Linked DNA regions of Homo sapiens. The protein of the gene in region 7 purifies or fractionates together with the protein of the main gene of each other region. This does not show direct contact. Each region holds a gene or a part of one and is shown on either strand. Other genes may lie near its edges.

Region 1 (3,500 bases), on a different chromosome or scaffold from region 7:
AAAACAGAAGAAAATACCAAGTGTGGCAAGGATGTTGAGAAAATGGGGCCCTTGTGCACTGTTGGTGAGCATGTAGAATGGTACAGCTGCTATGGAAAACAGTTTGGCAGTTCCTCAAAAAATTAAAGATAGAATTACCATATTAACTCAGCAGTTCCACTTCCAGGAATATGCCCAAAAGAACTAAATACTAGGTGGGGGCACTCTGACAGATATTTGTACACCAATGTTCATAGCCACATTATTTGCAATGACCAAAAGCTGAAACTATCCAAATATCTGCCGTTCATGAATGAATGGATAAACAAATTATGCTATATTCATACAATGGAATATTATTCAGCTGTAAAAAGGAAGGAAATTCGTCCGGGTGCAGTGGCTCATGCCTGTAATCCCAGCACTCTGGGAGGCCGAGGCGGGCGGATCACCTGAGGTCAGGAGTTCAAGACCAGCCTGGCCAAAATGGCCAAACCCCGTCTCTACTAAAAATACAAAAATTAGCCGGGCCTGGTGGTGCGCGCCTGTAGTCCCAGCTGCTTGGGAAGCTGAGGCATGAGAATGGCTGGAACCCAGGAGGCGGAGGTTGCAGTGAGTGGAGATTGCGCCACTGCACTCCAGCCTGGGCGACAGAGCCAGACTGTCTCAAACAAACAAACAAAAGGCCAGGCACAGTGGCTTACGCCTGTAATCCCAGCACTTTGGGAGGCTGAGGCAGGCAGATCACGAGGTGAAGAGATTGAGATCATCCTGACCAACATGGTGAAACCCTGTCTCTACTAAAAATACAAAAATTAGCTGGGCATGCTGGCGTGCGCCTGTAGTCACAGCTATTCGGGAAGCTGAGGCAGGAGAATCACTTGAACCCGGGAGGTGGAGGTTGCAGTGAGCTGAGATCGCGCCACTGCACTCCAGCCTGGAAACACAGCAAGACTCCGTCTCAAACAAACAAAAAACACCACACACAGGAATAGCTAAAATAGGGTGCAGCCACTTCCTCTAGGGCTGAAGCCAAACTCCCAAGAAAGAAAGAAATTGGGAAGAAGGACTTCCCTGCCCAACCGGCTCCCCACACAAGATTAGAGTTTCGCTGCAGAGGTATGGTCATGACCCACTGGGTGACTGAGAAGTTCACTGAAGTGCAACAGGCCACTGAAATTTGCTAGGGGGAGGGGTAAACGTCACTGCGTGTCTAGTGCAGGGCTGGCCCCTGTCCATCACAAGATCCCGCTAAGAGGAGCTCGTGAGAATCAGGAAGAGCCCCATCCTCATTCAGTGTTCCTCCAGCGCCCTCTGCTGACAAGGTTTAACACTGAGCTAGCTGGCAGAGGAGAAATGTTTACAGGGTCCAGCTCCAATATCACAAAAACGGCAGAGAGGCATGAAGTTGGAGCCACCAGCCTGTAAACTGATAACTGGTACAAGGTGGTTGTTAGAATGAAATCCAGTGAATGGATTGGATGTGGTGGCTTACGCCTGTAATCCCAGCACTTTGGGAGGCCAAGGCAGGAGGATCGCTAGAGGCCAGGAGCTCCAGACCAGCCTGGGCAACACAGTGAGACCCCATCTCTACAAAAATTTTAAAAATTAGGTGGGCGCAGGCTGGGCATGGTGGCTCATGCCTATAATCCCAGCACTTTGGGAGGCCAAGGCAGGTGGATCACCTGAGGTCAGGAGTTTGAGACCAACCTGGCCAACATGGCAAAACCCCATCTCTACTAAAAATACAAAAACTAGCCAGGCGTGGTGGCACACTTCTAGTCCCAGCTACTTGGGAGGCTGAGGCAGGAGAATTGCTTGAATCCAGGAGGCAGAGGTTTCAGTGAGCCGAGATAGAGCCACTGCACTCCAGCCTGGGCAACAGAGTGAGACTCCTTCTCAAAAAAAAAAAAAAAAAAAAAAAAGCTGGGTACATGTGGTCTAGCTACTCCAGAGGCTGAGGTGGGAGGATCACTTGAGCCTGGGAGTTGGAGGCTGAAGCTGAAGTAAGCTGTGACTGCAACAGTGCACACCAGCCCAGGTCACAGAGCGGAATCCTGTCTCAAAAAGAATTAAATGCAATGAATACTAACAGAAAGTAATTTTGAACGTAATTGTTTCTCTTCTGAACAGCCTGTGGTCTCCTGAAATTCAAAACTGTGAATTGGGTCCTTGATGAGGTCCCTTTCCACTAGGTAACATTCTGTGGCTCCCCACAGAAATAAAGAGGTGAACCTCAGCCGGGCGCAGTGGCTTACTCCTGTAATCCCAGCACTTTGGGAGGCTGAGGCAGGTGGATCACTGGAGGTCAAGAGTTCGAGACCAGCCTGGCTAACATGGTGAAATCCCATCTCTACTAAAAATACCAAAAATTAGCCAGGCGTGGTGGTGCATGCCTGTAACCCCAGCTACTAGGGAGGCTGAGGCAGGAGAATCACTTGAAACCGGGAGGCGGAGGTTGCAGTGAGCCAAGATCGCGCCATTGCACTCCAGCTTGGGCAACAAGAGCAAAACTCCGTCTCAAAAAGAAAAAAAGTGGGGGTAGGGGGGAGGGATAGCATTAGGAGATATACCTAATGTTAAATGATGAGTTAATGGGTGCAGCACACCAACATGGCACATGTATACATATGTAACTAACCTGCACGTTGTGCACATGTACCCTAAAACTTAAAGTATAATAAAAAAAGGGGTGACCCTCAAAAGTGGGCAGTGAAAAGTGAAAAGAGCAGAGATTTTTATGTCCAGACACCTGGGTTCAATTCCAGCTTTCTCCATGTATTAAAGGAGTGCCTGCTGGGCATGATGCCTCTGCTCCCAGCACCTTGGGAGGCTGAGGCAGGAGGATTGCTTGAGCCCAGGAGTTCAAGACCAGCCTGGGCAACATAGTGGGACCGTATGTCTTCTAAAAATAAAAATAAGAAATTAGCCAGGTGTGGTTGTGTGCACCTGTGGTCTCAGCTACTCGGGAGGCTGAGGCAGGAGGATCTCTTAAGCCCGGGATTTCAAGGCTGCAGTGAGCTGTGATCACACCACTGCACTCCAGCCTGGGTGACAGAGCAAGATTCTGTCCCCAAAAAAATAAATAAGTAAAGCAATTCTGGCTGTACTAATAGATCAGCCTCAGAATTTCAGCGGCTGAAGCCAAGTTTGTTTCTTTTTCCTATAAACTGTAGTTGGTGCAGGAAGGGTGGAAGGAAGTTGGTGGGGGGATATCCATGCATTCCCAGACATTTGGTTCCTTCCATCTTATGGCTCTGCCATCCCCGGGAGTCCCAGATTCTCCCCTGGAGTCTCTGTATCCAGAAGCAGAGAGGGAGTGGAGAGTCACGTGGCGTGCGTTTATGGGCCAGGCCTGGAAATAGCCGCACATCACATCGCCGCCACCTATACTTCCTTGGCCAGACCCAGTCTCTTGGCCCCACACATAGCAGCAGGGGAGAAGAGAAAAGGTCATCACGCCATATTCCCAGCAGAAAAATGAAATGGGGTTGGGTGGACAGCTCACCAGTCTCTGCCCTGCA
Region 2 (3,500 bases), on a different chromosome or scaffold from region 7:
AGTTTTTTCATCTATAAGATACGGATGGATATGGTTGTGAGGATTAATTGAAATATGTGTGCCCTGCTCAGGATAGGCTGTGGCACACAATCAGCACCTGCAAAATGCCAGCCCTTGTCATTATTCTTGCTAGTGTTATCACCATCACTCTGGCAACAACTAAGCCTGCACAAGGCACTGTCTTACAGAGCAGATTCATATCTCTATTTGGCCACCTAGACATTAACAAGGCCAAAATGTTAGTTTCAGGGCCCCTGGGAGCCAACTAAGTTAGTTCTCACCACAGCTCATTCCTCCACCCCTGTGTAAGCCCTGGTGTGTAAGCCCTGGGAAGGAGAGCGGCTTGAGGTTTAGACGGTGTATATAGGATGGTTACATAAGCAGCAAGCTGAGACTTCCTCTCTCCTCCCCAGTTTCTGTTCTGGGGAGGGAAAGGAGTGCCCCTCTCACCTGGAGGGCTTGATGAAGTTTGTCAGCAAAGTACAGCGGTGTGTTCTTGATCACCGAAGCTGGAAACAAAGATGGAAGGATGGAGGTTCACAACTAGGACCACAATCTCCCATCCCAAGAGAGACTTACTTCACAAATCCTGAGCAGGCCCCTACCTAGGCCGAGCAGAGCCACCTGAGCATCTCCATGGAAACGGTTCTGGACAGCCTCCTCCAGCTCTTGCCCAGTGCTCCGCTGGTACTGATCAAACACTTGTGTGTGTAGGAGGCAGTTAGAAAGATGGATGGGGGATTAATTATCTCTGGAAAGGATGGGCCCTCCCCACCTTCCTCAGCCCAAACTGATCATTAGAGCAAGCTAGGGGGACAAGAAGGCTTGTGTGTACCTCGGATGAGGTGTTCAGGATTTCGCTGGGTGAAGACTGGGACCCATGTTTCCTCTCTGCTAGGTCCTTCTGCCCGCTGCAGTGCCTAGGAGGGAGGAATGAGTCAGGGAGGAGTCAATCAGGATCATTGGTTGGGGCCTAGGGAGCCATGGGTATGACGTTCCAGAATCTATCATCATCATGATGGAAATGGGATTGAGGGTGGAAAAGGATTTTTTTTTTTTTTTTTGAGAAGGACTCTCATTCTGTCACCCAGGCTGGAGTGCAATGGTGTGATCCCAGCTCACCACAACCTCTGCCTCCCAGGTTCAAGTGATTCTCCAGGCTCAGCCTCCTGAGTAGCTGGGATTACAGGCACTCACCATCATGCCTGGCTAATTTTTGTATTTTTAGTAGAGACGGGGTTTCACCATGTTGGCTAGGCTGGTTTCGAACTCCTGACCTCAAGTGATCCACCTGTCTCGGCCTCCCAAATTGTTGGGATTATAGGTGTGAGCCACCACGACCAGCCAGAAAGTTTATTTTAACCCGTAAACTAGGTTTGTGTGTGTGCGTGTGTGTGTGTGTGTGTGTGTGAGAGAGAGAGAGAGAGAGAGCGAGAGAGATGGGGTCTCTCTCTGTCACCCAGGCTGGAGTGCAGTGGCATGACCAGGGCTTACCTCAGCCTCAACTTCCCAGGCTCAAGCGATCCTCCCACCTCAGCCTCCTAGCTAGCTGGAACTACAGGTGCAGCTAATTTTTAAAAATATTTTGTGGAGATAGAGTCTCACTATGTTGCCTAGGCTGGTCTTGGACTCCTGGGCTCAAGTGATCCTCTTGTTTCAGCCTCCCAAAGTGCTGGGATTACAGGTATAAGCCACCATGCCTGGCCTACTAGTTGTTTTTATTTATGTTTTTTTATCTTATGTTTTTTATTTTTTAAGAAAGAAATAGGGCTAAGAGAGGGCTCTGCCCTTACAGCCTCACAGCTCTATTCACTGATTTGGAAAAATCCTGGTACCCGAGGATTAAATAATCCCCAAAAGGTCTGAGGAGGCTTTCTGCCCCCAAACGCTCATGAGAGGAGAATATGTCAGTTGATGAGCTCAGGAGTCAGAGGCTAGATGAGTGAAAAGGCTTCAGCTATGACGCTACCTGACACCTCCTGCCCCTACCACATAACTGAGAACTCCCTCTCCAAGGCAGGGATGGGTTTGCGGGAAAAATGGGCACGTAGGTCACCGGCTCTAAGATATGGTGGAGGAAGGCATCTTATGTGCATGGCGGCTGTGCACACTCCTAAACCCCCTGCTCACCTGGACATCTTGTTCTGCCAGATTATAGTCAATGATTCCAGAGTAGCTGTCACGGCCCCCCTAGGAGGAGAAACTGTTCTTAGAGGGCTCTTTGAAGGGCACCTTTTTATCTTCAGACCAACAAGCGAAGGCTGGTCTCCCCTAAAGCCCTCTCTTGTCCATTACAGGACAGCAATGCTCCCTGCTCCAGCGTGTCTCCTTGCCTGGTGAACGTGACTCCCTTCCTTGCAGGTCAGTCCTCCTCACCTTGGCCAGGGCCAACAGCAGGTCCTGCAAGATGCCACTGGTCTCAGATGTGATGTCATCCACAGCCTCCACCTGGAAATCTGGGGTGGGGTGAGGAGCTCTCTGAATCCTCCTGAGTTTTCCTAGTGTAGATATCCCCAGGACCTGCCAAATGCCTGACCCGCTATACCCTGCCAGCCCTGCTAGCCCCTGCTTGGAGTAGCTTGATGGCTGCTAATTCCCAGGATGTAAGGCACAAGTACCATCACGGCCACTCTAAAAACATCTCTAAGTTGTGAGGTGTGCAGTGGCTTCATCACCAAGCACCAACCTGCTGGGCAGGAGGCAACCATTATTAGAGTTGGGGCCAGGCAGTGAAGAAGAGCTAGGGAAACCCGTATTATAACACAAGATGGTTAGGACCTGGCACCCTCATTGGAGGTAAGGAAAAATGATATGAGAGGTGGGATATGAGGAAGGAAAAGAGCAGGAAAGGGAGAAAAAGAAAGAGAAAAGGGAAACAGATGCAAGAAGGAAGGAAGGTAGGAGAGGGATTAAGAACATAGGCCACGGCCAGGGCGGTGGCTCATGCTTGTAATCCCAGCACTTTCAGAGGCTGAGGCAGGAGATGGCTTGAGCCCAGAAGTTCGAGACCAGCCTGGACAACACAGCGAAACCCCATCTCTACAAAAAATACAAAATTTAGCTGGGCATGGTGGTGGCACACCTGTAGTCCCAGCTACTTAGGAGGCTGAGGTGGGAGGACTGATTGAGCCCAGAAGGGTCAAGGCTGCAGTGAGCCATGATGACATCACTGCACAGCCTAGGCTACAGGGCAAGACCTTGTCTCAAAAGAAGAACATAGGCCAAGATTAGACATCAAAGGAAAATTGGGGAAAGCAAGAAAAAGAGGTAGGGGTGGGGGGAAGGGGTGGTAAGATGAGGATGGGAAAAAGCCACAAATTAGTGGGTGAGACACTTGTAGCCAAGCAAGGCCAGCCATCAGGGACATGAAAGGTGACACCCATGACTCAGAGGGCAGATTCCCACCTTTTCCTCAGGCTGCAGCATGGCTGGGTTCAGCTTGGAATGTGGTGTGATGGCAGGGATGGCAAGGGGCTGGGAAGGTGACATGAGTACCTTTG
Region 3 (2,173 bases), on a different chromosome or scaffold from region 7:
CAGATTAATGGCAATAGTAAGTATCTTTATTGTTTTTCCACCCTACTTCCCAAGGAAATGCCACACCTCTACTTCCCAAGAAAATGCCGCACCTCTCTCAATGAACACTAGCATCTTTGTGGAGTTTGCAGGCTCTGCCATTGACTCTTTGGCACAATGGTGTTGAAGGCAAGCTGTGAGAGCAAGACAGGGAATGAGTGGAGACAGGCAAGAAGGAAAGGTGGCAGGAAAAGGCTCAGGAGAAAGAGGATGACCATCGATCGCTGTGAGCTACCCCAGAGCCTGCCTCCCTTTGAAACTTGGTTCAGTCACTTACTACCTGGGTGGCCTTGAGCAAGTTCCTCCTCCCTCCCCTCTACCTCCATTTCCTCTTCCAGCAAATGTGAATAATAAGATGTTAAGAATACCTACCCCAAAGGGATTATTCTGAGGATTCAATGACTTCACCCACAGGAAAACACTTCAAATTGTGTTGGCACATAGTACAGTCTCAATACATGTTGGTTATGATTATTATTTTTTTTATTGATCTTTACATCCTCAGTGTTGGCAGAGTTTCTGATGCTTAATAAACATTTGTTCTGATCAGATAAGTGGAAAAAATTGTCATTTCCTTATTCAAGCCATGCTTTTCTGTGATATTCTGATCCTAGTTGAACATACAGAAATAAATGTCTAAAACAGCACCTCGATTCTCGTCTATAACAGGACTAAGTTCACTGTGATCTTAAATAAGCTTGGCTAAAATGGGACATGAGTGGAGGTAGTCACACTTCAGCGAAGAAAGAGAATCTCCTGTATAATCTCACCAGGAGATTCAACCTCAATATTCTGCATTGAAGGGATAGTCTTCCAAATGAGAGGATCTGCAGGAAAGAACAAAAAACAAAAACAGAGAAACTGAGTTCCATCAAAACAACAACTCTGGTTGAGAAGGTATTCTTCCCTGGTGGACTCTATCATATTTGTGCTCTCTTAGCCTCCTCCCTGCAAGAACATAAGGAGGGTGCCCACACTTTGACCTTCCCTCAAATCGATATGAGGGCTTTGCTCGGAAGGAGGGCAGACAGTGAGCAGGGCAGCAGAATAAACTCGTAATGACAACCCATAGTAAGCCTGGTGTCAGGCGAGGTGACAGACAAGTCTTGTCCCAATCCACTCTCACAACATCATGAAGTAGGAAACAACAGCAGAATTGACAGCTTGGGGATTGTTCTGAGTATTAAATGAGATAATACCACCGGAAAAGGGCGCAGGACCCTGGCACATTCTAAGCTAAGGTTCAATGGATGTTAGCTGCGATTAGTATTATCATCCTACTTTATAAGTGAAGAAACCAACTTGGAAAAACTAGGAAATTTGCCCAATGTCACACAGCTAATAAACCAGTGTTAAAGTTGGATTTGAGGCCAGGTGGATTTACTGCAGAGCCCACCAACCCATTGCCTCCATTGCTACCCATTGCCAGAAATGATGCTCATAGGAAGGTAAGCAGTTTAGTTTGGGGGGTGAGTCCCACTTTACGTTCACCCTTCCTTTTTGCTCTAAGTAGCTACTACTTTGTTAAGCTCCAATAAAAGTAAGCCATTGTAAGATGAGGAAAGGCTCCTATGATACTTAGGGTGGGCAGGATAGATATGGAATATCATGACATGCAAGCAGCGCTTGAGATACTGAAACCTTTTTTTTTTTTCTGAGACAGAGTCTCGCGCTGTCACCCAGGATGGAGTGCAGTGGCGCAATCTCAGCTCACTGCAAGCTCTACCTCCCGGGTTCACACCATTCTCCTGCCTCAGCCTCCTAATTAGCTGGGACTACAGGTGCCCACCACCACGCCCAGCTAATTTTTGGTAGAGACGGGGTTTCACCATGTTAGCCAGGATGGTCTTGATCTCCTGACCTCTTGATCAGCCCACCTTGGCCTCCCAAAGTGCTGGGATCACAGCCGTGGGCCACCACGCCCAGCCGAAATCATTTTTAAAAGGTGAAAAATCGTTTTTGGCTATAGAAACATTGAAAGAGATTCAAATCCTCATTGAATTACAGATCTGGCAGTAATAAATGCCAGACAACTCTTTTTGATACATTTAATTAGATACATTATTCAGAAAGTATTGCTTGTAAAGAGATGATTTAGAATGCCTGCCCAGCCAGAGTGAAAGCTTTTTTTCAC
Region 4 (3,500 bases), on a different chromosome or scaffold from region 7:
CCATGCCCGGCTAATTTTTGTATTTTTAGTAGAGACAGGGTTTCACCGTGTTGGCCAGGCTAGCCTCGAACTCCTGACCTCATGATCCACCCACCTGGGCCTCCCAAAGTGCTGGGATCAGCACTTTGGGTGAGCCACCACGCCCAGCCTACAACATATCTTTACACAGTGGTTTTTATATCCCAGGAGCATATACAGATAGATACGAAAATCCAGATTTTGAAGTGATAGCTTCAAATTCTTAAACGTTAGCACCCAAGTCAAGGTTTTAAAAATACCGTGTGGTGTAGTGTAATGTTAAGAGTTCTTCCTCCAGCCATACAAAAATGCATGTGCTCAGGGTTATTTATGGCAGTACTCTTTGTAATTGCAAAATACGGGAAACAACCTAAATGCCCATATTTAGGAGAGTGACTCAATAACATCCACACAATGGTGTAAAAAAGAATGAGGACAAGTTCCAAGAACTGCTATGAAATGTTTCCAGGACATATTGTTAAACCAAAAAAAGCAAAGTGCATAAGAGTATAGTTAGCTGCCCTTAATGTAAGGGGGTATAGAAAATATGCAGGTGTCTCTGTTCATTTGTACAAAAGAAATAAAGAAAGGGTACACCAGGTACTAAAGAGATGAATTACTTACAGGGGATGAGTGGAAAATGAGGTAGAAGAAAAGAGGAGGCCAGACATGGTGGCTCAGCCTGTAATCCCAGCACTTTGGGAGGCCAAGGTGGGTAGATCACTTTGAGGCCAGGAGTTTGAGACCAGCCTGGCCAACATGGTGAAACCCCATCTCTACTAAAAATGCAAAAATTAGCTGGGCGCGATGGCTCATGCCTGCAATCCCAGCACTTTGGGAGGCTCAGGAAGGTGGGTCACTTGAGGTCAGGAGTTCGAGACCAGCCTGGCCCATATGGCAAAACCCGGTCTCTACTAAAACTATAAAAATTAGCTGGGCAGGGTGGCGCGTGCCTGTAATCCAGCTACTCAGGAGGCTGAGGCAGGAGAATCACTTGAACCCAGGAGGCGGAGGTTGCAGTGAGCTGAGATTGTGCCACTCACTGCACTCCAGCCTGGGTGACAGAGCAAGACCCCGTCTCGAAAAAAAGAAAGAGAAAGAAAGAAAGAGAGAGAGAGAGAAAGAGAGAGAGAGGGAGAGAAAGAAAGAAACAAAGAAAGAAGGAAGGAAGGAAGGAGAGAAAGAAAGAAAGAGAAAGAAAGAAAGGAGTGAGGGAAGAAGGAAAGAAAGAAAGAAAGAAAAAGAAAAAAAGAAAGAAAAGAAAGAAACGGGGGCCAGGCGCGGTGGCTCACGCCTGTAATCCCAGCACTTTGGGAGGCCAAGGCAGGTGGATCACCTGAGGTCAGAAGTTCAAGACCAACCTGGCCAACATAGTGAAACCCCATCTCTACCAAAACTACAAAAATTAGCTGGGTGTAGTGGCACACACCTGTAGTCCCAGCTACTCAGGAGGCTGAGACAGGAGAATCGCTTGAATCTGGGAGGCGAAGGTTGCAGTGAGCCGAGATCACACCACAGCACTCCAGCCTGGGTGACAGAGCGAGACTCCATCTCAAAAAAAAAAAAAAAAAAAAAAAAGAGGAATGGGAAAGAGTAGTAGGGATGAAGAAACAGAGACACTGGTCTGAGTCAGGCTTTTCGTATAATTTTGACTCCTGGAACTATAGTCATGTTTCACATTTCCCTCACACACCCACAAAATAAATAATTAAAACTATCAGGGTGTGGGGGGAACCCAATATGGAATAGAAACACTAATAAGTGGACCTAACCAGATTAAAAAAAAGCATAACATAACCACATGGAAGGGGGTGAGGAAGAATAATAACCGCAAGAAACAGTGTCCTAACTGGGTATTATTACAAGACAAAAGACAAAAAGGACTGTGCATAAAGGCTGTCACCTTGGCATCGTGTGCTTCCCACAGGCACACCTGTAAATGATTCTGCAACTGCTATATATATATATATATATATATACAGAGTTTCGCACTTGTTGCCAAGGCTGGAGTGCAATAGCACAATTTCGGCTCACTGCAACCTCTGCCTCCCGGGTTGAAGCGATTCTTCTGCCTCAGCCTCCAAAGTAGCTGGGATTACAGGCATCTGCCAACACACATGGCTAATTTTTTGTATTTTTAGTAGAGACCGGGTTTTACCATGTTGGCCAAGCTGGTCTTGAACTCCTGACCTCAGGTGATCCACCTGCCTCTGCCTCCCAAAGTGCTGAGATTACAGGTGTGAGCCACCGCATGCTTTATGTATACACTAGGATTAAACAAATAAATATATCGTAGACAGAGTGAAGTTTCTGAGTGTTAGAGAAAGAAGTTACAAATAAGGAAAGATAAGGCTAAAATAAACCCATGGTGCTGGGCTGAAATCAGGGATATCAGTATGATCTCATGGTAATTCAATTTTTTTATTTTTTTATTTTTTTAGTTGTTGTCTTGCTCTGTTACCCAGGCTGGAGGGACAGTGGTGTGATCTTGGTTCACTGCAACCTCCGCCTCCCAGGTTCAAGTGATTCTCCTGCCCCAGCCTCCTGAGTAGCTGGGATTACAGGCACACACCACCACGCCTGGCTAATTTTTTGTAGTTTTGGTAGAGATGGGGTTTCACTATGTTGGCCAGGCTGGTCTTGAACTCCTGACCTCAAGTGATCCACCCACCTCAGCCTCCCAAAGTGCTGAGCCACTGTGGCCAACCAGGTAATTAATTTTTATACAGATTCAAACATAGATGTGTGAATATGCAGCTTCGTGTACATGCATGTATTGCCTCGCTGTGTTTGTTGAGAGGAACTAGAAGCAATGACATCCCAGTGGCAATGAGCACACCTAGTGCCCAGATCTTAGTTTCTAAATACTCCAATAAAAAGGAACTGGAGGGCTGGGCACAGTGGCTCATGCCTGTAATCCCAGCACTTTGGGAGGCTGAGGCAGGCAGATCATGAGGTCAGGAGTTCGAGACCAGCCTGACCGGCATGGTGAAACCCCGTCTCTACTAAAAATACAAAAATCAGCTGGGCTTGGTGGTGCACGCCTGTAGTCCCAGCTACTTGGGAGGCTGAGGCAGGAGAATCGCTTGAACCCAGGAGGCGGAGGTTGCTGTGAGCTGAGATCACGCCACTGTACTCCAGCCTGGGTGACAAGAGCAAAATTCCATCTCAAAAAAAAAAAAAAAGAAAGAAAAGAAACTGGAACTTATTGTGGGAAATAGGTGCTTCCCAGGATGGAACAGGAAATACACAAGAGGAGCCTGGAATCATTTGTGATGTCATCAAGTGAGGAAGTGCTCACAAATGATGGAGGCTTGTTGTAAGAACACAGAACGCAATCTGAAGGAATTCTGAGAGACCAAATCTGGGACAATCATAACATCAGATTTTTCACCCATGGAATAAAATGGATATCCATGAGTCCATGATGTAAATAAATCATTGAATAAAGTAATAAAGGGAGCAGGGAGGGACAGCTCTTT
Region 5 (3,249 bases), on a different chromosome or scaffold from region 7:
TACAGGAGCACACCACCATGCCCGGCTAATATTTGTATTTGTATTTTTTTTTTTTTGAGATGGGAGTTTCCCTCTTGTCTCCTAGGCTGGAGTGCAATGGCACGATGTCGGCTCACTGCAGCCTCCGCCTCCCAGGTTCAAGCGATTCTCTTGCCTCAGGCTCCTGAGTAGCTGGGATTCCAGGTGTCCACCACCACGCCCAGCTAATTTTTAAAATATTGTTAGTAGAGACAGGGTTTCGCCATGTTGACCAGGTTGGTCTTAAACTCCTGACCTCAGGTGATCCGCCTGCCTTGGCTTCCCAAAATGCTGGGATTACAGGCATGAGCCACCACACCTGGTCTAATTTTTGTATTTTTAGTAGAGATGGGGTTTCACCATCTTGGCCAGGCTGGTCTCGAACTCCTGACCTCAGGTGATCCAGCCAGATGCTGTGGCTCATGCTGCCTCCTGGGATTACAGACGTGAGCCACCATGCCCGGCCAGATGCGGGTTTAAAAGTAGATGCTCCTGCTTACGCTGCGGGCTGTGAAGACCCCAGCATGTGATGCCTTCTCAGCCAGTCCTGACAGGTAGAATGAGCCCTGGGACCTTAGCCTCCTCTGTCTTGGACCTCAGCTCCGATTGTCTAAGAAAGGGATGGGTTTACTGGGTAGTTCTTCCAACTCTGAATGTCTCCTCCCATTTTCTGCCCCAGGGGACCCGGCTACCTGTAAGCAGATCACCAGTGCGGATGCTGTGAGGAACATGGAATGGGCCACAGCTACTTGTGTCCTAGGGTTTGGGGTGTTTGGTGAGTTCTGGAATGAGAGAGGTCTCACTGAGGACAGTAGTTCTGAGAGACATCCCCGCTGGTGGTTTCCAGAGTCTTACTGCTTACCTCCAGTGTGGGAAGCTCACTGCTTTACTGCATGTGGGCTGTATTTGTGTAAGAGGAAAGGGTAGGGTGAGATGACTCATTAGAGCTGTAATAAAATGAAACCAAATGGGCGTGGTAACTGGCCAGGAGAGATCCACACTGCCGGTGCCCTAGCCACCCATTCATTCAGGCACGAATGAAGCAAACACATATTCCCTGAGCAGTTCTGTGCCTGCCGTGGGCTTGGCAGTGACCATGACTGACGGCCCTGCTCTCCTGTGGCTCTCAGTCCAGTGGGGGAGGCAGACTTGTCCCCAGACAGTGATGACCCAGAGTGAGCAGGTCTGAGACAGGGAAACCCAGGGTGGGGCATCTGGCCTACTCTTGGAGGGAATCAGGGAGGGCTTCCTGGAGGAAGAGACATCTGAGCTAGGACCTGGAGGATGAGGAGTTACTTTCCAGGGCAGTGAAGAAGGAAAGCAGTCTCTTGGCAAAGGGAATAGTACATACAAAAGCCCACGCGTGACACAGAACTTGGCATTTGGAGAAATGCAGGGAGGCAGGGTGGCCAAATCATTACAGAGTTTAACAGGAGCACTGATGAGGGATGAGGCTGGAGCAGTGCATGGGGCCTGCTGAGCCTTAGAACCACAGGCTTTCTTCTAAGATCACCAGGGAGCCATGGAAGGGTTTTAAGCAGAGCAGGGGCAGGCTCGGATTCACATTTTAAGGTAATTCTGACTCATATCCTCGGATAGATACAGGCTAGGTCGGAACAAATTAAGGTGGCTGGAGTGGCAATCTGCTCCTCTTGGCGGTCCCTGGCTCCAGCTGACATCTTACCACTTCCCTTCATCTTGCCCACAGGGATCTGGTCTGAGGGGGCGGACGGCACTGATATCAACGCTGTGGCCCGCTCTCATGATGGGAAGTTGCTGGCTTCAGCTGATGACTTTGGCAAAGTTCACCTGTTTAGCTACCCCTGCTGTCAGCCTCGAGTGAGTCCCTTGGGGAGATGGGGATGGACGGGGGTAGCAAGCAGGGGTGGGGACAAAATTCAGGCAGCTCTGGTCCAACCCCACCCCTTCTCTGAGCCTCGGTTTCCCCATCTGTACAAGGAGGACAGTAGTCTTGATCCCAAGGGCCTTTCTTAACCCCAAGGTGGATGAATTTCAGTGTGTCATGGTGAAGACCTGGTTCTCTGAAGTTCTGAGCAACTGCAATTCTGAGCTCTTTGGTTCTTTTATCCTTGTTAACTCAGTAAATATTTATTGAGCACCTACTATGTACCTAGGCACAGGATATACAACCAGATCTTATGAGTTTTTAAGGGAGGCCAAGGCCAGTTGCAGTGGCTCACACCTGTAATCGCAACACTTTGCAAAGCTGAGGCAGGAGGATTGCTTGAGGCCAGGAGTTCAAGACCAGCCTGGGCAACAAAGTGAGACCCCATCTCTACAAAATACACACAAAATTAGCTGGGCATGGTTGTGCATGCCTGTAGTTCCAGCTACAAGGAAGTCTGAGGTGGGAGGATTGCTTGAGCCCAGGAGGTTGAGGCTGCAGTGAGCCATGATTGCACCACTGTACTCTAGCCTGGGCGACAGAGCAAGACTTTGTCTCAAAACAAAGACAAAAACAAAAAAAAAAGCTGGACGTTAATTTTACCATTCTCTGGTTCTAACAGAAGAGGGATTGTTTCAGCATTTTCCTAGGAAATTTTCATGCATAAAAGCAGAAAGACTAGTACAGTGACTCCTCCTGTACCTGTTACCCATGTTCAACTATTACCAGATTTGGTATATTTATTTCATTTGTTTCTTCTTTCTCCTTTCTCTTCTTTTTTTATTTTTTATTTTTGAGACAGGGTCTCACTCTGTTGCCCACGCTGGAGTGCAGTGGCATGGCACAATCTCGGCTCACTGCAGCCTTGACCTCCTGGACTCAAGCGGTCCGCCCACCTCAGCCTTCTGAGTAGCTGGGACTACAGGCGTGCACCACCACACCTGGCCAATTTTTGTATTTTTCATAGAGATAGGTTCTCTGTTGCCCAGGCTGGTCTTGATCTCCTGGGCTTGAGCAATCCTCTCCACCTTAGTTTCCCAAAGTGCTGGGATTACAAGGCATGAGCCACAGTACCTGTCCTGGTCTGTAGTTTTAAGAAACTGCATATGTGGCCGGGTGCGGTGGCTCAAGCCTGTAATCCCAGCATTTTGGGAGACCAAGGTGATGGATCACCTGAGGTCAGGAGTTTGAGACCAGCCTGACCAACATGGTGAAACCCTGACTCTACTAAAAATACAAAAGTTAGCAAGGCGTAGTGGCAGGCGCCTGTAATCCCAGCTACACAGGAGGCTGAGGCAGGAGAATTGCTTGAACCCAAGAAGTAG
Region 6 (4,079 bases), on a different chromosome or scaffold from region 7:
TCCTCTTATTTACTGAAAGAATGGTGGGAGACAGAATATGAATGTGTGTATGTGATCATTGATTTCAGACCCCTTTTCCTAATCTCTCTGTGCATGGCTGCCCACCCCACCCCATTTTGGCTAGTGCTGACGGTGAACAAAGTGGTTATTATCATCCCTATTTATGGCTGGGGAAACTGAAGCCTATATACTTCCTACTTCACTTTCTCCACACACCAGCAAACCTCCTTTCCCCCAGCCAACATACCACACACACACCACACCACACACACATCACATACACACACCACACACACATCATATACACACATATACCACACACACCACGTATACATATACCAAATACACACACACCACATACACACCATATATGCACACACACCCCATACATACACACACCCATGCACATACATAGCGGCAGGAAGAGGGCTCCCGGGGAATTTGCCTTTCGACACTGCATTTCCCAGTAAGCCCGCCGTTTTTCCTTTCTGTTTCATATCACAGACAGAAAAGTTTTCCAAAGATTCTTTTATTTACATTTACATACGATTCTGAAAAAGCGTCTCCAAGCTACCACTTCTTGTAGTTGCCATTGTCTCATTCCACCAAAAAACATCTCAGACCGCCCGCGGCCACCCCAAATACGCCTGTCCACTGAAGCCTCACTAAAAGGAGGAAGCGCTGATGTCAGGGTTACTTAAATTCCCAGGCTCCGGATCCCTAGAAGAGGTATTTCCCTTTACGCCCGCGAATTTGTCATAGAAGGCAGGGCACTAGAGCCAGCCCCAGCCAAGTCCAGGGGGAGGGGCGAAGGTCAGTAGCGGCCTTCCTAAGGCTTCCTTCAACCCCTCCTTGCCTGCCAGTCAAGTACCGTATTTTCGCAGTACTGGTTAAAGTTTCACTTTGACCCGCCTCCATCACTCACCTGATTAGATGTTTATGAGTCAAAAGGCGGGGTCATGGGGTGTCGAGATTTTATTGGTGGATACATACGCCTGTCGGCAGTGTACCGCCCCCTGTCTTCAGGAGCTTGCTCTTTAATGGCTCCTTACCTCGTCCATCTTCGAGGTTTCTCCCTCGCTATTGGCTTGTGGCCCCGCCTGTCGCGTCCCTTGCTCGTACTTGTTGGTGACAGCGCCCAAAGAGACTCGCCTTTCTCCAGAGGATTGGTGGATGAGTGCACATATAGCCCACCCTCGAAGGTAGGCGGGTAATCGAGCTATTGGCTGGAGCCCCGCCCCAGGGCGAGGAGGAGAAGGAGGGGCAGGAGGGTTTGGTTGAGCTGCAGCTGTTTGTCTGTTCGACACAGGCTTGGGGCCGACGGGGGAGACGGAGCCCCAGGTACCGAGCTGATGGAGCCCAAAGGGCAGGGGCGGAAGCGCCCGGGAGATGAGAGCAGCCTGGCCTGAGAGCGGAGGCGGGTCTGGTCCTAAGCGAGGGGTTAGAGTGGCCCACCGGAGAGGGGAGAAGGGGGCCGGGCCCCGGCAGGCCTAATGGGGGTCGCTGAGGAGGGGACTGGGCGGCCTGGGACCCCGAAGTTGGTGAGTCGGGAAGGCGGCTGGGCTGTGGCGGCGGCCAGGCCGAGGGCCGGGGGCTGGAGGCCTGGAGCTTGAGTGAGGGCAGGGGCAGGCCTCATTAAGCAGCGCTGAAGAGGGAGGAGCTGGGGAAAGGAACAGGGCAGCGGGTGAGGTAAGCCCATTTGCCGGGAGGTGAGGAGGGTCAGACCTGTCGCCCGAGCCCCGGGGGTGACTGGGGCTGGGTCCCTGCAGAGAGGTTCATTGGAAGGGCCTGAGAAGGGTTCTTAGTTGGGTAAGAAGCGTTCTTTTCAGGGAAAGTGCCTATTGTAAAAAGAACTGAGGGTGCTATGGTGTTGAGCTGAGAGAGATTTGGGTTCAGTGAGGGAGAACTGGGGAAAATGAAGAAGGCTGTATTAATCTAGAAGACTAAGGTAGTTGAAGTAATGGAAGCAGGGCCTGGTATCAGTTATGGGAACTTCTGGGAATGCTGAAGGGTGGGCTGGGGGCTCTGGGTCTTGGGAGTACACACTCTTTTGTTCCCTTTAGTGTTTAGATGTGGTAATTTGAAGCTTTTTAAAACTCCCAGGGTAGGGATGAAGATCAAAGTAATTTTTTTTTTTCCATGACTGTTGGCTGCTCCAAACTCAGCCCCTACACTTTCTGTTGGCCTCATAGCTGGTCTATACTGCAGTCTGTTTCTTAACTTACTGTTTCATGTCCTATGAAAGAGCTAAGAAGTTGGATTGGGGGCATGTTTTGTCCACTTCTTTCCCACTTAATAATGTGGTCTATAGCAAATACCATGTCTCCTAGAACTGAGAATCTATTTCATATCTATTTCATTATCTACATGGGAAAGGGGCTTAGAGATCCTCAGCCATCAGGAGATCTTCTGATCATAGTTGGTGAAACTTTTGTGGGACTTAGACTTGACTTGGGTATTTCCCAGGCAGGTAATGGAGTTAACAGGTCCGAAACTATGCGGTGATATCACTGAGGAAGAGATTTGGGGAAGAGTGAGAAATTCCATTTCAAAAGCTTGGCATCACCCCTTGTTCTTTGTCTACTTCAAAAGCCCAGATTTCTGTGCTGTTAGAAAGTTGGGTCAAACTATGAAGTATCTGGGGAAGATGGTGAGTAGAGAAAAAGATACAGAGGTGCAGTAGCCCACGCCTGTAATCCCAGCACTTTGGGAGGCTGAGACAGGAGGATCACTTGAGCCCGGGAGTTCGAGGGTGCAGTGAGCCATGATCTTCCCACTGCACTCCAGCCTGGGCAACAGAATGAGACCCTGTCTCCAAAAAAAAAAAAGACAAAGATTGCCAAAGCAGAGGAGTGGAGTACCCTCCTCCCCACATATTTTTAATGGTCTGCTAGCCTTCTTAGTCCCTCATAGATTGGAGCCTATTGGATTTTCCCTTACTGTACTTCCTCCTTTTCTGCGTCTCTACCAATATATTTTATCACTACATTTCTTTTTTTTTTTTTTTTTTTTTTGAGACGGAGTCTCACTGCAACCTCCACCTCCCAGGTTCAAGAGATTCTCCTGCCTCAGCCTCCCAAGTAGCTGGGACTACAGGCGTGCGCCACCACGCCCAGCTAATTTTTGTATTTTTAGTAGAGACAGGGTTTTACCATGTTGGCCAGGATGGTCTCAATCTCTTGACCTCATGATCCGCCCACCTCGGCCTCCCAAAGTGCTGGGATTACAGGCGTGAGCCACCACACCCGGCCATCACTACATTTCTTAATTACAAAAGTTAATATGTACATATTTTAAAATATGGAAGGTGTACAGCAGTTTAAGAAGTATAAATCCTCCCACACATACCTTATTCATATTTCATTTAGGAAGGTCAAGGATCAGAGACAGCAAATCAGACTAATCTTGCTTTGCTTTGGGGGATGTGTCACAAAAGGCAATTGTGTTTTCATGTTCTCATCAAACTCTAGTCTTATTCTTTCTACAGTTTTCCCTTCTGGGATGATACTCTGTTATTTATTGTGTTCCTTTCACAGTTCATTTTGTCTTCTACCAAGTCCGACAAGCAGAGGGCTGTACTGTGTGTTATTCACCTTGAGTACACACAAACACACACACCCCAAGTTGTGTGCTGGGTGTCCTAGGAAGTGCCCAAAGAGATGGAACAAAACTTTATGGGGAGAAAGGATCATTTTGGTTGGGATAATTGTTGGCATCTCTGCTAAAGAAAGGAATTTCAGACCCTTATCTCAAATTCATGGTCTCTGGATGTTCATGGTCTCTGCATGTTCACATTACTTGACTATCCCTTTCTTATCCATGATGATGATGGTTCTCCTAAGAGGCCCCTGTATTTGTCTTTCTTTTCTTTTCTTCTATTTTTAGAGACAGGGTCTTGCTTTGTCACTTAGGCTGGAGTACAGTGTGTGTCTTTCTGTAGGGATCTGAGAAGCTCCAAGCTTATCTGGATTTGAAATCGGTTTTCCTCTAAATCTCAGAGTCAGAGTACAGCTGGGGCATTTCATACTACCACCTTATTAATTGAATTTGTCCTTACTAGCTTTAAAAGCCCTCTGTTG
Region 7 (3,440 bases):
AGGAGAATTGTTTCAACCCAGGAGGCAGAGGTTGCGGTGAGCCGAGATTGCACCACTGCACTCCAGCCTGGGCTATAGAGCAAGACTGTCTCAAAAAAAAAAAAAAAAAAAAAGGATAAAATAGTTTTAGGACATAGTTTTATATCTAACATGATATGACACTGAGTTATTGTGTAAAAAGTTATTTTAAAATATAAAAGTAAATTCTTTGAACTAAGACAATGAGAAATTAAATATAAATGTTTAAGACCAAACTTAAACCTAGAAAAAACATCATCTCAAAATGACATGTTTCCCATGGCATAAGAAGCTGCTACAACTTTTAAGTGTGTAGGTGGTGGATTTTGAAATCTTTCTAGATTTTTCTTTCTTGAGAAATCTGGGTTTATCTTGAAAACCCTGAATTAGAAAAATTAGATTGATTTCATTCAGCGGCAAACACAGGAAGATGTATACTGAATCATATTTCTTAAAAATCTCAAATTTAGAAGATTGTGAGGTTGAATGAGGTCATCTCCTGAAGCTTCTATAGCAGGAATGCCGATCCATGATGAAGGACAGGATTGCATTTATTTTCTTTAGATGATCTACCATTGAACAGTAGAGACAGGGTCCCTCACGGTCTGTATCCAAACAGAACCCGGATTTTTACAGACTGATCGAGGCATAATGCTCAGAACTACATCTCTTTAGAGGCTCACTTTGCAAGGAAAAAAGAAATCATTCTGCCCTAGAAGGGGGCTGTAGGAAGTATTCACAATGAGTCAATTAATATCAAGATCTCCTGTTCCAGGAAACTGTTACTAAGTATTACAAAGGAAATTTTATGTGCTCACATAAGTTTAGAAAACACTGGCTTAAAGCTGGTATAGAATTATTCTTTCCTAGAGAAATATTTACAGCATTCACTATGCTAATATGAATTGTGATCCCTAGACAGAGGCATCTGATGTGAAGTAAGTCTCAAACTTATTTGACTATAGAACTTATTTTTAAAGTCCTCTGAAGGGACCAGTGTTTTGAGGAAAACATTATGGGAGGTATGGGACTGGATCAAAAGCTAATGAGGATATTGTAAGGGGTATTGTCCTGGTGTGGAGTGGCTGCAGCACAACTTGAAGAGATCAATTTCTAGAATTTCATCCCACATCTGCTGAAATCAGTCATTTAAAGGTAGGGCAGGAGATAGCTCCATTTTAAATAAATGTCTCAGATAATTCTCATGTCCATTGAGGGCAGAGGTCCCACCAGTGCAGAGATGGGTTAAGAACCGCTCAATGATGTAACTTCCTAGGTCACTGTCAGTCACAATGCCATAATCCTTTTCATAAAGCCCTTTCTACTCCCAGCACTCTCTTCAAAGTATTCTTCACTTCTGAGTTCCTAAGACTACAGATAAGGGGATTGAGCATGGGATTAAAGAGGCTGTGAAACAGCAGGAGATATTTCTTCTGCTCCTTGGGGTTCCCATATCTGGGTCCAACATACATGATAATGGCTGTGCCATAAACGAGTCCAATCACACAGAGGTGGGAGAAGCAGGTGCGGAAGGCTTTCCTCTGAACTTCCCTTGATTGGATCTGAAGGATAGCACAGAGGATGCACATATATGAAACTACAATTGTGGACAAGGGTCCCACCAGCCCAGAAATTGCTCCGGCCAAGACCATGTTCTCATTGATGTGGGTATCTGCACAGGCAAGTTTGAGAACAGCCAAGATTTCACAAAAAAAGTGATAAATTTTCTGGGGCCTACAGAAGGGTAAAGGTAGAAGTAACACAAGATGAATCAAGGATAAAAGGACTCCAGTGGTCCAGGAAGTCACCGCGAGGGTGATGCAGACTCTCCAGGTCATGATGGCCAAATATCGGAGGGGGTGGCAGATGGCCACGTACAGATCATAGGACATCACCACCAGGAGGAGACATTCTGTGACAGCAAAAGTGGAAAACAGAAAGGTCTGCATCATGCGGCCCGCAAAGGAGATGGGCTTGGCTGGATGCAGGAGGTTCACCAGCATCCGGGGCACCGTGTTGCAGGCGTAGGCGATGTCGACGACCGCCAGGTGTGAGAGGAAGAAGTACATGGGGGCGTGCAGTCTGGAGTCCAGTGAGATGAGCCCCAGTATGGTCCCGTTCCCCAGCAGGGTGAAGACGTAGAACAGGGAGAAGAGCCCAAAGAGGAGCATCTGAATCCTTGGGCCAACGGGAAATCCCAGTAGGAGGAACTCTCTGATGGATGTTATATTGTCTCCCATATCCCTATGACAGAGGAAATCAAGTTAATGCTCATGGTTTAGGAGAAGTGTTTAAAAACAGATTCATTTTAACTTGTTCGGCACTCTTTGGTGAAGTAGAAAAGTGTTCAGACAGCTGCAGTGAGTTTTTGTGTTTTTAAATGAATGCTTCAAGACAATTTGGTAACGCTAAAATAAATGTTTAAAAAATATATGCAGGCCGGGTGCGGTAGCTCACGCCTGTAATCCCAGCACTTTGGGAGGCCGAGGCGGGCGGATTGCCTGAGCTCAGGAGTTCGAGACCAGCATTGACAACACGGTGAAACCCCATTTCTACTAAAAATACAAAAAATTAGCCCGGCGTGGCGGCGTGTACCTGTAGTCCCAGCTACTCGGGAGGCTGAGGCAGGAGAATTGCTTGATCCCAGGAGGCGGAGCTTGCAGTGAGCCGAGATCGCAACACTGCACTCCAGCCTGGGTGACAGAGCCAGACTCTGTCTCCAGAAAAAAAAAAAAAAGAAAAGAAAAAAAAAACGCGTGCACACGTATACATAGGTTTCTTTTTTATTACGTTAATTTTTTAATAAAGGCTAAAATTTAAAAATAAACATGTCACATATTAATATATCCTTTTGGTCTTTTTTTAAAAAAAATTTGGCTCAGGCCTTTCAGGGATGAATGTCACATGTCAATGTAGTACACAGTTTTTGTTTGATTCAGTGAGCTATCTCATATCCTTCAAATAAATTCTTCTTTTCCTTGGTCGTATTATTCAGAGTTTTTCTCTGTTATGTTTCAGAAACAATGAACACTAACTGATACACATGTCAAAGTCTTAAAACCACATTAAGTTTAATCTTAAAGTGGAAGGTTTAATTAAGGGCGGGCTATACTAAGGTTCGACATACCATCAGCCAAATACACCAGTGGTCATTCACCTCTTAAACTTTCCACTCTTGCACTGATCATCACCTCCACAGCATATATCTCACAAAATCTTTTCTTATCCAAGTGTAAAGACTTATTTTTTAGCCCAGAACATTATTTTTTGTTATTTACTTTCCCACAATGTTTAGATGAGCATTTATGTGAATGACTGAATAGATTTGCACTGTGTCATTATCTAAACACGAAAACAGGATCAGTAACTTTTGTTGGATTTGGGCTTACTATTGATAAACACTCTAGAATACACAGTTTTAA

Evidence for each region.
Region 1: the proteins of OR2A4 (region 7) and SULT2B1 purify together in Homo sapiens (affinity purification with mass spectrometry; one large-scale study listed by BioGRID and IntAct). This does not show direct contact.
Region 2: the proteins of OR2A4 (region 7) and ANXA9 purify together in Homo sapiens (affinity purification with mass spectrometry; one large-scale study listed by BioGRID and IntAct). This does not show direct contact.
Region 3: the proteins of OR2A4 (region 7) and AKR1B10 purify together in Homo sapiens (affinity purification with mass spectrometry; one large-scale study listed by BioGRID and IntAct). This does not show direct contact.
Region 4: the proteins of OR2A4 (region 7) and ACP7 purify together in Homo sapiens (affinity purification with mass spectrometry; one large-scale study listed by BioGRID and IntAct). This does not show direct contact.
Region 5: the proteins of OR2A4 (region 7) and EML2 purify together in Homo sapiens (affinity purification with mass spectrometry; one large-scale study listed by BioGRID and IntAct). This does not show direct contact.
Region 6: the proteins of OR2A4 (region 7) and RAB5B purify together in Homo sapiens (affinity purification with mass spectrometry; one large-scale study listed by BioGRID and IntAct). This does not show direct contact.

What each region holds. Positions count from the first base shown.
Region 1 is NC_000019.10:48,583,172-48,586,671, forward strand, and holds part of SULT2B1 (sulfotransferase 2B1), read left to right. Parts: intron 1-3,500. UniProt on the Homo sapiens protein: Sulfotransferase that utilizes 3'-phospho-5'-adenylyl sulfate (PAPS) as sulfonate donor to catalyze the sulfate conjugation. Responsible for the sulfation of cholesterol.
Region 2 is NC_000001.11:150,985,292-150,988,791, reverse strand, and holds part of ANXA9 (annexin A9), read right to left. Parts: intron 2,457-3,500; coding exon 2,377-2,456; intron 2,191-2,376; coding exon 2,131-2,190; intron 921-2,130; coding exon 836-920; intron 702-835; coding exon 606-701; intron 510-605; coding exon 451-509; intron 1-450. UniProt on the Homo sapiens protein: Low affinity receptor for acetylcholine known to be targeted by disease-causing pemphigus vulgaris antibodies in keratinocytes.
Region 3 is NC_000007.14:134,539,740-134,541,912, reverse strand, and holds the end of AKR1B10 (aldo-keto reductase family 1 member B10), read right to left. Parts: intron 867-2,173; coding exon 824-866; 3' UTR 501-823; downstream 1-500. UniProt on the Homo sapiens protein: Catalyzes the NADPH-dependent reduction of a wide variety of carbonyl-containing compounds to their corresponding alcohols. Displays strong enzymatic activity toward all-trans-retinal, 9-cis-retinal, and 13-cis-retinal.
Region 4 is NC_000019.10:39,090,868-39,094,367, reverse strand, and holds part of ACP7 (acid phosphatase type 7 isoform 1 precursor), read right to left. Parts: intron 1-3,500.
Region 5 is NC_000019.10:45,612,149-45,615,397, reverse strand, and holds part of EML2 (echinoderm microtubule-associated protein-like 2), read left to right. Parts: intron 1-697; coding exon 698-793; intron 794-1,726; coding exon 1,727-1,857; intron 1,858-3,249. UniProt on the Homo sapiens protein: Tubulin binding protein that inhibits microtubule nucleation and growth, resulting in shorter microtubules.
Region 6 is NC_000012.12:55,972,799-55,976,877, forward strand, and holds the start of RAB5B (ras-related protein Rab-5B), read left to right. Parts: upstream 1-1,279; 5' UTR 1,280-1,341; exon of another isoform or gene 1,342-1,493; coding exon of another isoform or gene 1,494-1,541; intron 1,542-4,079. UniProt on the Homo sapiens protein: The small GTPases Rab are key regulators of intracellular membrane trafficking, from the formation of transport vesicles to their fusion with membranes.
Region 7 is NC_000006.12:131,699,144-131,702,583, forward strand, and holds OR2A4 (olfactory receptor 2A4), read right to left. Parts: upstream 2,259-3,440; coding exon 1,326-2,258; 3' UTR 501-1,325; downstream 1-500. UniProt on the Homo sapiens protein: Odorant receptor.